2 separate regions of the Homo sapiens genome follow, and region 2 is reported to be linked to region 1. Evidence: microRNA targets listed by miRTarBase, many of them from high-throughput screens and not tested one by one. Region 1 holds a microRNA gene; the other region holds the end of a gene's coding sequence.
What was found. The annotated mature microRNA hsa-miR-937-3p reads AUCCGCGCUCUGACUCUCUGCC and lies in region 1 at 2,179-2,200, shown strand. An mRNA with a match to its seed (bases 2 to 7 or 8) in the 3' UTR can be bound and repressed. Matches are read on the target gene's strand: a 7mer-m8 pairs with bases 2 to 8, a 7mer-A1 pairs with bases 2 to 7 and ends in A, and an 8mer does both.

Region 1 (3,000 bases):
CCCGTGATTCCTCCGGCGGCAGAATCTGCCCGGGCGAGTCACCGCAGCCTCCAGCCGGCCCTGCTGGTTTGCACTGGCCAGGTCCCCACCCCAGCCAGCCCCACCCTTCTCTTCCAGCCGCCCTGGCTGGCGCAGGTGGCAGCGGTCATCAGGTGCTTGCCTGGGGATAGCGATTGTCACCGAGCCTGGAGGCGGAGCCTCAGAGTGAAACCCGTGGGGATTCAGGGAGGTGGATGGGGTTAGGGTGGAACTTGGATTCAGGTGGCTGATGAGTACTAGCTTCTTGGGCCGCTCTGGAGGTGGGTCCAGACCTCCTCTCCTTTTTTGCTGGGTGCAGGGGTGAGTGGGGGAGCCCTCTTGATGTACTCTTTGCTCTCGGATCTGTTCGCTGTCCCCCTTTCTTTACCCTTGCTTCTCGTGGTCAGGTGCTCTCCTAAGGCTGCTACAAGAAAGGAGGCTGGAGAAAGCAGATTAAAAAGTATTTCTTTTCTGGAGATGGGGTGCTGGGTGATCAGTACCTAGGGGTTGGGTGTCCCAAAGAATGTGACCCTGTTCTGGCCGTGGCAGTGACAGCTCGGTCCTCTGTGGCCACCTGCAGGCCTCGCGCGTAGCACTGTGCCTGTGGTACTGTGTTATTGTGGGGAGCGTTTACTGAGTTCTTGCTGCAGAACCAGGCCAGGCTTGTTGTCAGGATGCAGTAGCAGAGGCCAGTGTGGGCCCCTGGAGGGTGGCAGAAGTGGTTCAGGGGCTGGGTGGGCCCTGAGGTAAGACACAGGGTAGGGGATTGGGGCTTTGTCTGGTCGCCAGCAGGTGTCTTCTCAGAGTGGAGGCTGGTGTGAAGAGTAGAGGGAGGCAGCCACAGTGGGCGTGTGTACCGTGTGTTTCTTTCCTTTTTTTGCAAATGGGGTGTCGTGGTTAGACCCCAGGACCCGGTGTGACCTGGAGCAGACAGAGGCCTAGGGACTCTTGACTTGTGACACTCACGTGTCCAGGAGCTCTTCTCTGCTCTGCAGTGGTCTCTGCCACAGAGTCCGTGTCCTCCCTGCCCACAGCCTTTTTTCCGGCTGCTGAACTTGCGCAAGCTGGGCCTGAGCGACAACGAGATCCAGCGGTTGCCTCCCGAGGTGGCCAACTTCATGCAGCTGGTGGAGCTGGACGTGTCCCGGAACGGTGGGGAGCCTGGGCAGGGGCTGGGTGGGGTCTGGGGAGTGTCCGCTGGGGCTGCAGACGGCCTGCAGGCCATGGCATCTGTCCACTGTGACCCTCTGTGACAGATATCCCTGAGATCCCGGAGAGCATCAAGTTCTGCAAGGCTCTGGAGATCGCGGACTTCAGCGGGAACCCCCTCTCCAGGTGGGTGGCAGCCTGTGGTGGGGTCGGTAGGGGCTATGGGTCCCACAGCCCTGGACTGGTCATCCGAGGGCCTCTGCTTCCTCCCATCCAGGCTCCCTGATGGCTTCACTCAGCTGCGCAGCCTGGCTCACCTGGCCCTGAATGATGTGTCTCTGCAGGCACTGCCCGGGGACGTGGGCAAGTGAGTGCCTTCTCAGGTGGAACTAGGGTGGGGTGGGGGACCAGGATTGGCCCTGCCCCTGCTGCCACTGCTTTCCTTCCTCTTGCCCCAGCGCCTGGTCTCTCTTTCAGCCTCGCCAACCTGGTGACCCTGGAGCTCCGGGAGAACCTGCTCAAGTCCCTGCCAGCGTGAGTGTGACAGGCATTCTCCTAACAGCCAGGGCAGGGCCACAGCCCAGGGACCAGGGCTGCGTGGCCACACCTCCACCCTGCTTCCTCTGCAGGTCCCTGTCATTTCTGGTCAAGCTGGAACAGCTGGATCTGGGAGGCAACGATCTGGAAGTGCTGGTGCGTGGAGGCCTGACAGGGCAGAGACCGGAGGGCGGGCCACGGAAGCAAGGGCAAAGAAGGGGACAGCGAGCAGATCCGACAGCAAGGGGCACCTCGGGAGGGCAGGCGGGTGGGAGCTGGGTGTGGGGGCGTATAGTCTCTTGAGCACGGCGCAGCAGGAGGCTTTGCCTCATAGTCACTATTTTCTCTGTTCCTTCTTGCAGCCAGACACTCTGGGGGCTCTGCCCAATCTTCGGGAGCTGTGGCTTGACCGGAACCAGCTGTCAGCACTGCCCCCGGTGAGTCAGGGTGGGGCTGGCCCCCTGCTTCGTGCCCATCCGCGCTCTGACTCTCTGCCCACCTGCAGGAGCTCGGGAACCTGCGGCGCCTGGTGTGCCTGGACGTGTCGGAAAACCGGCTGGAGGAGCTGCCTGCTGAGCTCGGCGGGCTGGTGCTGCTCACTGACCTGCTGCTGTCCCAGAACCTGCTGCGGAGGCTGCCCGACGGCATCGGTTAGTGTGCCTGGGGGTGCCTGGGTGGGGCACACGGAGCCTGGCCCTGGGAGGAGCGTGGGGCGTCGGGGCTGTGTGTGGTGTGGAACACAGGGGAGGATCCTGAGTGTGCCCAGGCTCTGGGAGCTGTCCCTGGGGAGGGGAGGTGGGACCCTGGGGCAGCCCAGAAGGCTGAGGAGGCAGCTGGTGGTGCTGGAGGGGGCGGTGGAGTCTGTGAGGGCGGAAGGGTGGCAGTGCCACTGGGGCCTGGTGTTTTCTTGAAGGAGGTTGGGTCAGGCTTGTGGGGCAAGGTAGGTAGGGTCCTCCCGAAGTACGGCGGCGGCAGAAGGGGCTGGGGGCCTTGCTGTCTGCCTTGAGGGCGCTTCTGGCCAGGTGGGTAAGGCACGTCTGGGGACCATGCTCAGCCTTGTCCCCCTGTCTCCCCGACGCCAGGTCAGCTGAAGCAGCTATCCATCCTAAAGGTAGACCAGAATCGGCTGTGCGAGGTGACCGAGGCCATCGGGGACTGTGAGAACCTCTCTGAGCTGATCCTCACGGAGAACCTGCTGATGGTAGGGTCTGGCTTGGGAGGCAGAAAGGATGGGGCCGTCGGGGGTGCAGAACAAGGACAGGGCATCAGCCTGTGTCTGCTGCTGGGGGGTGCTGG
Region 2 (3,507 bases), not on the chromosome of region 1:
CGGCCAGGCCTGGGGGCCTGGGCACAGTGAGCCCCGAACCCTCCTCCCGCGCCTGCGAGGAAGGCAGTTTTCTGGGCAGATGCTGGAAGGAGCTGTTGGGCTCGAGAGGTCCCACCGCCACCGCGAGGCTGCTGCCTGAGTGCAGGGTCCTGCAGCCGCACCGAGCGGCCCCTCCGAAGGCCGGCGTGCCTGCCGCCAGGTGCGGCTCCGCGGAATTCCAGCTTCGCCTGAACTAAAAGCAGCTGTGCAGCTTTCTGCCTTCATTGAGAAAACGGGAGCTGTGCCGTCGCCTTTCCTCCTGGGCTGCCTCCGACCCAGCACTGAGAAACCGAAACTCCCCGGGGCTGGGTGTGTGAAGGAGGGACAGGGAGGAGGCGACAGCCCAGGACCCTCCAATGCCCCCGCCCCGCCCGCCCAGTGTGATGTCCTTCTAGTCGTGGGATACTGAGCTTGGAAATGGTCATGAAATAGGGGTGCAAAACTCAAGCGACTCTGACAATTTTTTAGAAACGCTTATAGTCCCTGGGGAAACAAAGAAGGGGACCAGAAGCTAGGAGGGGACAGCATCCTACCAGACTCCAGGGTGTTCATTAGCAAGGAAGGATTTATTTTTTCTTTTGAGGGGAGGGCGGAACAGCCGGGATTTTTGGAACACTACCTTTGTCTTTCACTTTGCTGTTTGTGTGTTAACACGAATAAATCAGAAGCGACTTTAAATCTCCCTTCGCAGGACTGTCTTCACGTATCAGTGCAGACAAGAAAACAGTGGCTTTACAAAAAAGATGTTCAAGTAGGCTGCACTTTGCCTCTGTGGGTGAGGCACACTGTGGGAGAGACAAGGTCCCCTGGAACCAGAGGTGGGAAGGACAGAGCTGGCTGACTCCCTGCTCTCCCGCATTCTCTCCTCCATGTGTTTTGAAGAGGGAAGCAACATGTTGAGGTCTGATCATTTCTACCCAGGGAACCTGTTGTCCCCTGCCCCTAGTTGCTGGTCTGTTTCAGGTTTATTTTGGGGTCGGATTATTGGCCCTGTGGGTGCAAATGTCTACCTCTTGCCGTAATTCAACCCTATTATTATCACTCTTTATGATTACTAAGTAGATGTCATCCAAATCAGTCAAGACTCATCATCTGTTAACCTGATTTAGGGAAGATTGTTTCTCTCCCATTCCTGCCAAAAGAGAGCATCCTGAAATAAACGCCACCCTCCTTCCCCACCTCATTATATGTAGAGCTCAAATCATCCTCCTGTCCTGGGTAAGATGGGATCTACCCAAGAATGGCAGCCATGGCAATGAGGCCTGTTTCTAGTCTCTGCATTTCCCACAGTTTGTATTACTCTCTAAAATTTTGCAATCCATGCATTGTTAAAACTGTATTGCCTAGGAACCTACTGAAGAACAGGTGTTCACCCTGGTACTCCCACTGATGAAAATCCTCCGTTACATTTATAATATGGGAAACTGTCTCTCCCTCTCTCCAGGAGGCATTTTCTCTTCAGACTGCAACTGAAACATGCAAGACATTGCCACTGCTTCAAGTGAAATCTTTACAGATGAGGGAAGAGTGAAAAAAATACTACCCATTGGTTCACACCCAGTTGAACTTTTGCATTCCTAAAAAGGTGGATGGTTTTGTTTTGACAAAAACACTATGACATTTAAATTGCTTTTGAAATTGCCCTGAAGACACCTTTGATATTTTAAGATAGTCTTATGACAAAAAAGTTGTCAAAAAAATTGGGGCTCCAACTTTTTGAGCCCCAAATCGAAACCAATTTACCTGAAAATATCTGTTTGACTCTAGGCTTGTTAAGAACTCAACTTGCCTGCTAAGGATTCTTGGGGGAGAGAGGGACACTTCCCTCTCATTTGTTCTGGAAGCACTTAGGTGACTAATTAGAGGAGTAATTGGTTTTCAACTTTTAAAAAGCCCATGAATGGAAGTCCTATCTGGAAATCTGTCTAGCAATGCATCTCATACGGAAATCTGCAAGCCCATTCTATAATACCTTTATCGAATTATTCAGGAAAATATTTTTATCTCCAGAGGAAGTTTCTTGAGACCAAAACCTGAGCCCATTTTTTTGGGAGGGGGGACAGACATAAAAATCTCTCCACTTCCAACCCATCATCACAATGTGTTAAGTCAGTTGTTTTATTAAAAAATAAGCACTATGCTTGGGTTTCATAAAATTTATACATGAATATGTACACAGACACAAATAAAATAATATTAAAAATAAAAATCACACTTGCTTTCAAGGCAGTGGTCCTGGCACCCCACATACATAATCAACTTTTCCTTTAAAGAAATTGCTTGGCCCAAGGAGACCACAGTTAGAGAACCACTAATAAAGCTGTAGCCCGTTGCCTGCAACATTTTCAATTCGGGTTTCAAAAATATATAAATAATTTAATTACAAAACCCAACATTTTTTTTCTCTTTTGGCACAGTGAAGCATCGGTCAATAGCAAGAAATCACTGAAGAGCCTCTGACATGTCTCTCACACTCAGTCATACCTGGAAATGCCACATACGTACACGGATGGGGGCCCAGAAACCCCAAACAGTAGTCATATCATTTATAGTGTGGAAAGGTTCCCTGATGTACTTAGGGGGGAGGGAAGGGACATAAATCAATGGAAGTTGCGACAAAAACAGTAGAAATAAGACGAAGCCTGGGCGTTAAAGAAAGACAAAAAAAGTCCTTATGAAGGGAAGGAGGAGCAGGCTTCGCAAAGAAACTAAAACAAGAATTGCTTTGGTCCTCTGTAAAGTTATAAAACACAAAGGAAAATATCCTGGACTAAGTTTAAATACTCCTGTCAAAATGCTTTAGCTTTAAGGCACGTTTGATGGAGATTTTAAAAATTCATCTTCCTCTGGATTCAAAGTGCAAAGTCCGCGCGCGGGCCCGCGTTCCCGCCTCCCCGACGGCGCGCACTCGGCGTTCCCGGGCCCCGCGGCGCTACTCAGGCTAGGAGCGTCTCCACCGGGTACGGCAGGTGCGGGCCAGGGCGGCGGACTGAGGCCGCCTGCAGGGCTGCGGGCAGCCGCAGGGGGCAGTACAGGTGCGCGCCGCCGGCCGCCGGGCCTCGGAGTGGCTTGGCGGGGGCCGCCGCCGGGAGAGGTGCAAGCAGGAGGGGCGGCGCGGTCGGTGGCACCTCGGCCTCGCGCGCGCCCAGCCGCGCCGGCTCGCCCGCGCCGTACGCGCAGAGCGGCAGCAGGGCCCTGCAGGGCGCCGCGGGGAGGAGCGCGGGGAACGCGGGCAGCGGCGGGCAGGGCGCGGCGCCCCACTGAAGCGTCGTCCCGGGGGCCGTGTCCCTGAGGCGGCGGCTGCGGAAGGGCTTGCGCAGGATGCTGTCGATGGCGAAGGAGCTGGAGAACTTGCCCGCGGGGCTGGCGCGCTCCTCCTGGCGGGCGGGCGAGCGCATGCGGGGCGAGGCCGGGGCGGCGGGCGCGGGCGGCGGGGCGGCGGGGAGGCCCGGGGCCTCCTCGGGCCGC

Region 2: the mRNA of FOXQ1 is a reported target of hsa-miR-937-3p. Seed matches in the 3' UTR shown: 7mer-m8 at 2,905-2,911.

The regions. Positions count from the first base shown.
Region 1 is chr8:143,812,171-143,815,170 of GRCh38, reverse strand. It overlaps MIR937 (microRNA 937), which reads left to right and starts at 2,129; the gene lies at 2,129-2,214. It overlaps SCRIB (scribble planar cell polarity protein), which reads left to right. Exons shown (of 37, transcript NM_182706.5): 2 at 1,053-1,170; 3 at 1,275-1,353; 4 at 1,445-1,534; 5 at 1,645-1,701; 6 at 1,797-1,860; 7 at 2,067-2,141; 8 at 2,210-2,354; 9 at 2,787-2,905. RefSeq lists enhancers at 1-71, 356-1,020.
Region 2 is chr6:1,313,385-1,316,891 of GRCh38, reverse strand. It overlaps FOXQ1 (forkhead box Q1), which reads right to left. Exons shown (of 1, transcript NM_033260.4): 1 at 2,134-3,507. The coding sequence ends at 2,976. Among named protein-coding and RNA genes, the nearest start is that of FOXQ1, 3.0 kb to the right of the region's middle.